2 separate regions of the Homo sapiens genome follow, and region 1 is linked to region 2. The links come from fine-mapping of genetic effects on gene expression. A gene starts in region 2. The other region holds a variant in brackets. All regions are shown on one strand. Distances are between the middles of the regions. Region 1 overlaps ABCC8 (ATP binding cassette subfamily C member 8). Region 2 holds the start of KCNJ11 (potassium inwardly rectifying channel subfamily J member 11).

What was found. PIP is the estimated chance that this variant, and not a neighbour inherited with it, causes the effect.
Region 1: its variant is fine-mapped to the expression of KCNJ11 in putamen (GTEx, PIP above 0.99). The same link has a PIP of 0.9 or more in caudate and nucleus accumbens.

What each region holds. Positions count from the first base shown.
Region 1 is chr11:17,422,055-17,426,436 of GRCh38, reverse strand. All of the region lies in intron 16 of ABCC8 (ATP binding cassette subfamily C member 8), which reads left to right. Among named protein-coding and RNA genes, the nearest start is that of KCNJ11, 36 kb to the right of the region's middle. The variant G/T (reference allele first, on the strand shown) is at 2,239.
Region 2 is chr11:17,386,378-17,390,751 of GRCh38, reverse strand. KCNJ11 (potassium inwardly rectifying channel subfamily J member 11) reads left to right here and starts at 2,093. Exons shown (of 1, transcript NM_000525.4): 1 at 2,093-4,374. The coding sequence starts at 2,661. The coding sequence ends at 3,833. RefSeq lists silencers at 1,013-1,112, 1,193-1,702 and enhancers at 2,911-3,564, 3,565-4,218.

The DNA of each region.
Region 1 (4,382 bases), 36 kb before region 2:
TGATGAAAGATTCATGTAAAAATCAAAACCACAATGAGATACCATCTCACACCCGTTAGAATGGTGATCGTTAAAAAGTCAGGAAACAACAAATGCTGGAGAGGATGTGGAGAAATAGGAACGCTTTTACACTGTTGGTGGGAGTGTAAATTAGTTCAACCATTGTGGAAGACAGTGCGGTGATTCCTCAAGGATCTAGAACCAGAAATACCATTTGACCCAGCAATTCCATTACTGGGTATATACCCAAAGGATTATAAATCATTCTACTATAAAGACACATGCAGACGTATGTTTATTGCAGCACTATTCACAATAGCAAAGACTTGGAAACAACCCAAATGCCCATCAATGATAGACTGGATAAAGAAAATGTGGCACATATACACCATGGAATACTATGCAGACATAAAAAAGGTTGAGTTCGTGTCCTTTGCAGGGACATGGATGAAGCTGGAAACTATCATTCTCAGCAAACTCACACAGGAACAGAAAAGCAAATACCACATGTTCTCACTCATAAGTGGGAGTTGAACAATGAGAACACATGGACACAGGGAGGGGAACATCACACACTGGGGCCTGTCTGGGGGTGGGGGGCAAGGGGAGGGATAGCATTAGGAGAAATACTTAATGTAGATGAAGGGTTGATGGGTGCAGCAAACCACCATGGCATGTGTATACCTATGTAACAAACCTGCACGTTCTGCACGTATATCCCAGAACTTGAAGTATAATAAAAAAAGATGCATGTAAAATAAAACCCTTTAAAAAGGTAAGAAAATAGGAACTGAGAAATGAAGAGGGTAAAAAGATGTTCAGCAACCTGGGCAGAGGACAACTACAGCCATCAACATAAAACCTGGCTCTGTGCCCTCTGGTAGCCAAGGGAAAAAGGGATCTCTGGGCTTTGGAGTATTCATTTAGGAATAAAAGTTGCAGCCAATCAGCAGAAGGGCAAGCTTTCCCTACCAATCATTTCTAGGGGAAAATTATTGAAGGTGTCAGGTTTTTCATAAGCATGAGTACAGAACTGAGCAGGGAGAAAGACTTTGGGCCCAATGTCTGAATATCAACATGCACCCCCGTTTCCTGCATTTCCAAGATGTCCCTGAATGGTGTATCCAAAAGATGGCAAATTTCCCTCCTCAGTGGGGTCGTGGGCTAGCAGATGAGCCCCTTGGGTTTCCCATCACCTCCCATCAGGGACTGTGATGTCTTTGGGGGCAGAGGGGTCTTTGCCTCCATTCGCCATTTTATTTGGGAGATTTTTCAACATAGCCTGACTGGGAAGGCCCAGGTATTCGGTTTGAGATCATATTGCCTTATTCCGACTGCCTCTCCAGCCTTTGGAGGGAGGAGCCCTTTTCTGCTGTCCAACTGCATGCCTGCAGCAAGAAGACAAGAGTCCCCAGTGCACTGTGAGCTGAAGAAAGTAACCAATATTTATTGGGTACCTCCTATGGGCCATGCCCTTTGCTAAGTGCATTGTCAACATGATCTCATCAAGCCTCCTACTAAGTTTAGGAGGGGAGTGTTGTTACCCCATTTCACAGAAGCAGAAACTCAGGCTCAGAGAAGTTGGGTGACTTACTAGTCAGTGTGTGGAGCAGAGACTCTGCCCATGTTCTTTCCCTCAAACCTGGTCACTGCTGGGGCCCCCAGGGCCTAGTCCTAAGGGTTATTGTCCAAGCCCCATGTAGTGGTCAGGCTGGATCTGGGCTCTCCTCCAAGGCAGGGCTTTTCCAGAAGGATTGCAGGGCTCAGACACTGGAGCTGCCCCTGCCTTGACCTGCTCAGCATGGATGTCAAAACCCACTCTGAACCTGGTCCCTTTGCCCTGCTTTCTTCTCCTCCCCCACCCTCATGCCCTCATGTGGCATCGTGCCTGCCTCAGGAGCTCTCCTTGTCCTATGTAGATGAAGCAGGCATGATTGGCAGGGGTCTGCTCTGCCCTGCCTCAGTCCCCACCTCTTCTCCAAGCTGTGCCAACCCTCCGGGTCTGACTGCTGCCCCTCTCTCTTAGGAAACCTCTGCCCCAGCCCAGGGAACACAAGGAGCCTCTCCAAGGCAGAGGACCCTAAGCACTTCTTTTTTTTATTATTTTTTATTTTATTTTAGGTTCTGAGATACATGTGCAGAGTGTGCAGGTTTGTTACATAGCTATACATGTGCCATGGTGCTTTGCTGCACCTATCAACCTGTCATCTTTTTAAGCCCCACATGTATTAGGTATTT[G/T]TCCTAATGCTCTCCCTCCTCTTGCCTCCCACCCCCCGACAGGCTCGGTATGTGATGTTCCCCTCCCTGTGTCCACGTGTTCTCATTGTTCAACTCCCACTTATAGTGAGCACATGTGGTGGTTGGTTTTCTGTTCCTGCCTAAGCACTTATTATAGGCCAGGCACTGTGCAGGCACCTCATCATCTCAGTCAGTCTGCACCGAACTCTGTGCAGTAGATATTATTATATCCTCATTTATCAGATTAGGAAACTGAGGTGAAGCAAGTTGTCCAAGGCCACCCAGCTGTTAAATGGCAGAAGTGGGATTTGCACCTAGGTGCTCAAGTGCATTGGTTTGCCACCATGTGCTCAAAGAGAAGGGGCACAAGAGCCTCATGAAGAAGGCATAGCTAGCCTGACAGTCCAAAGGCCAGCAGCCGCTGTGGCCATGACTCACACACACCTGCCTCCTCCCAGAACTGCCACGTGGGTCCTCACAGCTCTGTCCTTATCAACACTTACTCTCCTTTACAGGTAGCCTAGGCCCCAGCTCCCAGCTCTGTTCGAGGCTCGCAGAGGGGCGGTAGTGAAGGGGTCTCATTTCTCCAGGATCCTCTTTGCTCTCTCGCCCGGTCCTGGTCCAGCTTCCCTTTCAAGCATAGTGAAGTGCATTTGTTAGCTTGCAGCCAACCCTGGGAAATCATGAGAATTTGTTCCCAAGTCAACTCATTCTCCAGCGTCCACAGTGACGTATTCACTCACCCAGTTGAGCGCCTAGTGTATACTAGACCCTGTGACAGCAACAGGAGTGCAAAGGTGACTAAGACGTGGCCCCTGCTTTTTTTTTTTTTTTTTTTTTTTGAGACGGAGTCTCGCCCTGTTGCCCAGGCTGGAGTGCAGTGGTGCGATCTCAGCTCCTCACAAGCTCTGCCTCCTAGGTTCAAGCGATTCTCCTGCTTCAGCCTCCCAAGTAGCTGGGACTACAGGTGTACACCACCATGCCGGCTAATTTTTTGTATTTTTAGTAGAGACGGGGTTTCACTATGTTGGCCAGGGTAATCTCGAACTCCTGACCTCATGATCCGCCCGCCTCAGCCTCCCAAAGTGCTGGGATTACAGGCATGAGCCACCACCCCTGGCCGGCCCCGCTTTTAAGAGAGGGGAGAGAAGACCTGGGCCTTAGAAGAGCTCAGAGGAACCACAATTGACTCTGCAGTCAAGGAGAGGAGGCTCACTGCGGATGTGGTATTTGAGCCTTGAAGGATGAGTGTGGTTTCATCAAGTAGAAAAGGCAGGGATGGGAAAGGGAGGTGGTCCAGGCAGGGGTGATGGTGTGGGCAAAGCCTTGCTGATATTAAAGAACATAGTTCTGTGCACCTGGAACACTGGATGCATGGGGTGCATTATGAAAGATGGGACTGAAGAAGTGAACTTGGCTTAGATCCCATGTAGTAGGTCTGAGAAGTAAGATTTAACCCAAAGGTTGCAAAAGAACCATGCTTGTGATAAAGGATGATGGATTGGGGAAACAGAGAAAAAGACAGACAGACTGTAGGAAGGGAGGTATTAGCAAATAATCATAACACAGTGTGAGGTGTGCATTAATATTCACTCATTCCAAGTATTGATCAAGAAGAGAGGTAGGTACTGGGTTAGGAAACAGCTTGGGCAAATGCATGGGGAAATGAGAGATGTCAAGATGCATTCTAATGGCAGCCTCTTGAAGATCTTAAGTTGTTTTTGGTTCACTCATTTCGCAAATGAATTCATTTAGCAAAAGCACTATGGATACAGTGCTTACCTCTAGGAAGTAAGTTTTAGCCCAAATGCTGCAGAAGGATCATGCTTATGACAAAGGATGATGGACTGGGGAGAGAGAAAAAGAAAAGACAGACAGACTCCAGGAAGGAAGGTCAGTCTGCAGCTCCTTATAGTGGCTAGGAGAAGGAGTCTAGGCAGATACGACTCAATTAGCTTCATCTGCTGTTTGTCTCTCAAAATCTAGACATGTGCACTGCTCTGGCTGGCCCACCTATCCTGGGCATTGAGTTAAGTGTGGGGGCTGTGTGTTGAGAGTCCCCCTCCATTACTGGCAGGAACTCCACACCTCAGACATTGAGCCCCAGGTCTGCAGGGAGAAGACGTGCTTGCAAAGTGAGCTAA
Region 2 (4,374 bases):
ACAGATGTGGCTCATCTCTGGTTATTGTTATTAGAACTGACTCTTGCATATGTGAAACCAAAGCCTGCCTCTGTTCCACTTAGTGTCCTGGTTCTACCCTTTGGGCCACAAAAAACTACTAGTTCATCCTCCTTCAAGGCCAGGTGTTTCTGCAATAGTGCCCAAATCCCTGGGGGACTTTCCTTTTCTGATGGCTGGACAGTTGTAGTTGCCTCAGAGATTTCCCCATGTAACCCTGTCTCCTTGAGCTTCCCACTCTGCTCATCTCATTTTACCCTCCCCTTCCTAGACACTGCATCTTTGTTAATATAGCCCATGATCACACCCATCCTTTGTAGCGGTGTTCGCTCTGCCTGCAGGTGGGTAGGGAGAGAAAGGAAAATCCAATATAAAATGCATATCTTGCCCCCACTGTGGCCCACAGCCACACTGCCTTTTCCAGACCCTGTCTCAAGCCCCCACTCCAACAAAATGGCCGCAGATGGTCAGGGGTTCTTCCATAAGGATCTGAGCCACAGACAGCGGTAAAGCCGTTACTGTTCCAACAACAGAGATCTAGCAGGCTTTCCCTCCCAGCTGAGAACCCGGGTCCATGCCACAGGGCAGCCTCAGGCTGATGCCTGAACAGAAACACCACCATGCCGGGACCAAGAGCCTGGGTCCCCCAGTGCCCGAGGCAGCCCTAACACACTGTTCAGGCCTAAATACCACCCATGACCTAACGTGGAAGAAGTCAGGTGACAGGTGTGAGAAAGTGTAAAGCAAGTGGCCTCGGCTCAAACCTTCTTTAAAGTAGGGCCGGAATGGCTGAGAAGATGGAGCCGCCCAGGCTGCCCCACAGCAGTAGCAGGTGTTAAACTGTGCTCCTTTCCTGCCGAGGCCTTTTTTTTTTTTTTTTTTTTTTTTTTTTTTAATGAGAGGGAGTCTGAGCTTCCATCAGATTGTCAAAGGATTCAAGACTAAGATTAAGAGCATCCCCCAAAGAGAAGCAGCTGCAGGTTGAGAAGTCCTCGGACCGCCTAATTTCCGCCAGCCCTGGGATTGGTGGCGCCGCCTCTCAGCGCCTCCTTTCCCGGGGAACCTGCAAACCTGGCGCGGCCGAGAGGCGGATTACTGACCCAAATACGGATGGGGATATTGGGGGAGGGGAGCCAGGGCGACAGGGCGGCGGCCCCAGACTGGGAGGGCGGGTCACAGATCCCTCCCAGCCCCCCACTTTCGTAGAGCGTGGGCAGGAGGAACCTCTGGGTTCCGCGGATCAGAAAAACTCCAAAGGCCGGGTTGTGAGTCCCGGGAGGGGAGGTGGAGGGCGGGGGCGGGGAGGGGCGCGGGAGGGGCGGGGGCTTGCTCCGGCCCCGCCCCCTGCGCTCCGGTGCAGGTCGGGCTCCCCCTGGCGGTCCCCGGCCCCGTTCCTCTCCTCGTGCGCCCCCCTCCCGCCGTCCTAGACCCCTGCCTAGCCCAGGTCGGTCTCCGCGGACCCACGGACGGACAGACAGACGGGAGGACGGCCAGCCGCGAGCGCCCGGGCGGCGGGAGGGGGCGGGGAGGCGACGGCCGTGGCGTGAGGAGCAGGAGCAGGTGCAGCGGCGGCGGCGGGCGGGGCCGGGACCCGGCGCGGAGCGGGAGCCGCGGCGCGGGCGGGCGGCAGGGACCGGGAGGCCGCGACTCGGAGTCAGCCCCGCCGGGTCGCGCGCAGGTCCGGGGAGCCGCGGTTGAGCCGGGTGGGGTGGTGACTCCAGAGAACGCAGGATCCCAAGGAGACAGAGAGGACGAGAGCTGGAGGGGGATCCGGAAAGCGGCGGGGGCGCTCCGGGAGGGGTGGAGTAGGACATAGGGGGCGCACCTGGAGGAGAGACGGGGCGGGGGTGGCCAGGACCTGAGCTGGAGCCTGGGAGCCCGAAGGCCAGACAGGTGAGGCGGGAGACCCGGAGGTGGGGGTGAGGTCCGGTTAGTGGGAGAGATCCGGAGGTGTTAAGTTCTGAGCTGGGCTGGGAAGGCAGGCTGGGCGGGGAGAAGGGCTCTTAGCGGGAGGCCCAGGGGTGGTCAGCTGGTGGGGGAAGCTGGGGGAGGACGCAGGGCCAGGTGGAGAGCCGGCAGGGTTGGGGGCTCCCTAGGCGCCAGGCAGGTGGGCTCAAGGGTGAGGCTGTTTTTTTTGTTTTGTTTTTTGTTTTTGAGACGGAGTCTCGCTCTGTCGCCCAGGCTGGAGTGCAGTGGCGTGATCTTGGCTCACTGCAACCTCCGCCTCTCGGGTTCAAGCGATTCTCCTGCCTCAGCTTCCTGAGTAGCTGGGATTACAGGTGCGCACCACCATGCCCGGCTAACTTTTGTATTTTTAGTAGAGATGGGGTTTCACCATGTTGGTCAGGCTGGTCTCGAACTCCTGACCTAGTGATCTGCCCTCCTCAGCCTCCCAACGTACTGGGATTACAGGCGTGAGCCACCGCGCCCGGCCTGAGGCTGGTATTAAGAAGTGAAGTGGGACCCAGGTGGAGGTAAGGAAGAGTCTGGTGGGGAGTTATCTCAGAAGTGAGGCCAGCACAGGCTGAGTGCAGCCCCAGGGTGAGAAGGTGCCCACCGAGAGGACTCTGCAGTGAGGCCCTAGGCCACGTCCGAGGGGTGCCTCCGATGGGGGAAGCCCCTCCCTGGGGGTCACCGGAGCCATGCTGTCCCGCAAGGGCATCATCCCCGAGGAATACGTGCTGACACGCCTGGCAGAGGACCCTGCCAAGCCCAGGTACCGTGCCCGCCAGCGGAGGGCCCGCTTTGTGTCCAAGAAAGGCAACTGCAACGTGGCCCACAAGAACATCCGGGAGCAGGGCCGCTTCCTGCAGGACGTGTTCACCACGCTGGTGGACCTCAAGTGGCCACACACATTGCTCATCTTCACCATGTCCTTCCTGTGCAGCTGGCTGCTCTTCGCCATGGCCTGGTGGCTCATCGCCTTCGCCCACGGTGACCTGGCCCCCAGCGAGGGCACTGCTGAGCCCTGTGTCACCAGCATCCACTCCTTCTCGTCTGCCTTCCTTTTCTCCATTGAGGTCCAAGTGACTATTGGCTTTGGGGGGCGCATGGTGACTGAGGAGTGCCCACTGGCCATCCTGATCCTCATCGTGCAGAACATCGTGGGGCTCATGATCAACGCCATCATGCTTGGCTGCATCTTCATGAAGACTGCCCAAGCCCACCGCAGGGCTGAGACCCTCATCTTCAGCAAGCATGCGGTGATCGCCCTGCGCCACGGCCGCCTCTGCTTCATGCTACGTGTGGGTGACCTCCGCAAGAGCATGATCATCAGCGCCACCATCCACATGCAGGTGGTACGCAAGACCACCAGCCCCGAGGGCGAGGTGGTGCCCCTCCACCAGGTGGACATCCCCATGGAGAACGGCGTGGGTGGCAACAGCATCTTCCTGGTGGCCCCGCTGATCATCTACCATGTCATTGATGCCAACAGCCCACTCTACGACCTGGCACCCAGCGACCTGCACCACCACCAGGACCTCGAGATCATCGTCATCCTGGAAGGCGTGGTGGAAACCACGGGCATCACCACCCAGGCCCGCACCTCCTACCTGGCCGATGAGATCCTGTGGGGCCAGCGCTTTGTGCCCATTGTAGCTGAGGAGGACGGACGTTACTCTGTGGACTACTCCAAGTTTGGCAACACCGTCAAAGTGCCCACACCACTCTGCACGGCCCGCCAGCTTGATGAGGACCACAGCCTACTGGAAGCTCTGACCCTCGCCTCAGCCCGCGGGCCCCTGCGCAAGCGCAGCGTGCCCATGGCCAAGGCCAAGCCCAAGTTCAGCATCTCTCCAGATTCCCTGTCCTGAGCCATGGTCTCTCGGGCCCCCCACACGCGTGTGTACACACGGACCATGTGGTATGTAGCCCGGCCAGGGCCTGGTGTGAGGCTGGGCCAGCCTCAGCTCAGCCTCCCCCTGCTGCTCATCCAGGGTGTTACAAGGCACTTGTCACTATGCTATTTCTGGCCTCAGCAGGAACCTGTACTGGGTTATTTTTGTCCCTGCTCCTCCCAACCCAATTCAGGACTGGCTCACCCCTCTCCCCCGCCCAAGGCTGCAGAGGCTGTGGGAGGTACTGGGCCCTAGAGCTGTGCGTCCAGCCAGTCCTGGGTCCCCACGATTGACCAGCCACACTCTGGGCCGGTGGCTGGGGAAGAACAATCCCCGAGGGCTGCTGCTTTGCGTCTGTGGCTCCAAGAAGTGCCTGTGGTCAGGCCCCAGCTCTACTTGGTCCCTGAAAAAGCACCTGGCTAAGGGCTGGGCCTGGCCAGCAGGGAGGGCAGTTGATGAGAGAGGGTGTTCCCGCTGGAGGGTTGGTGCTGTGGAGCCTACACCGGCAGGGACAGCC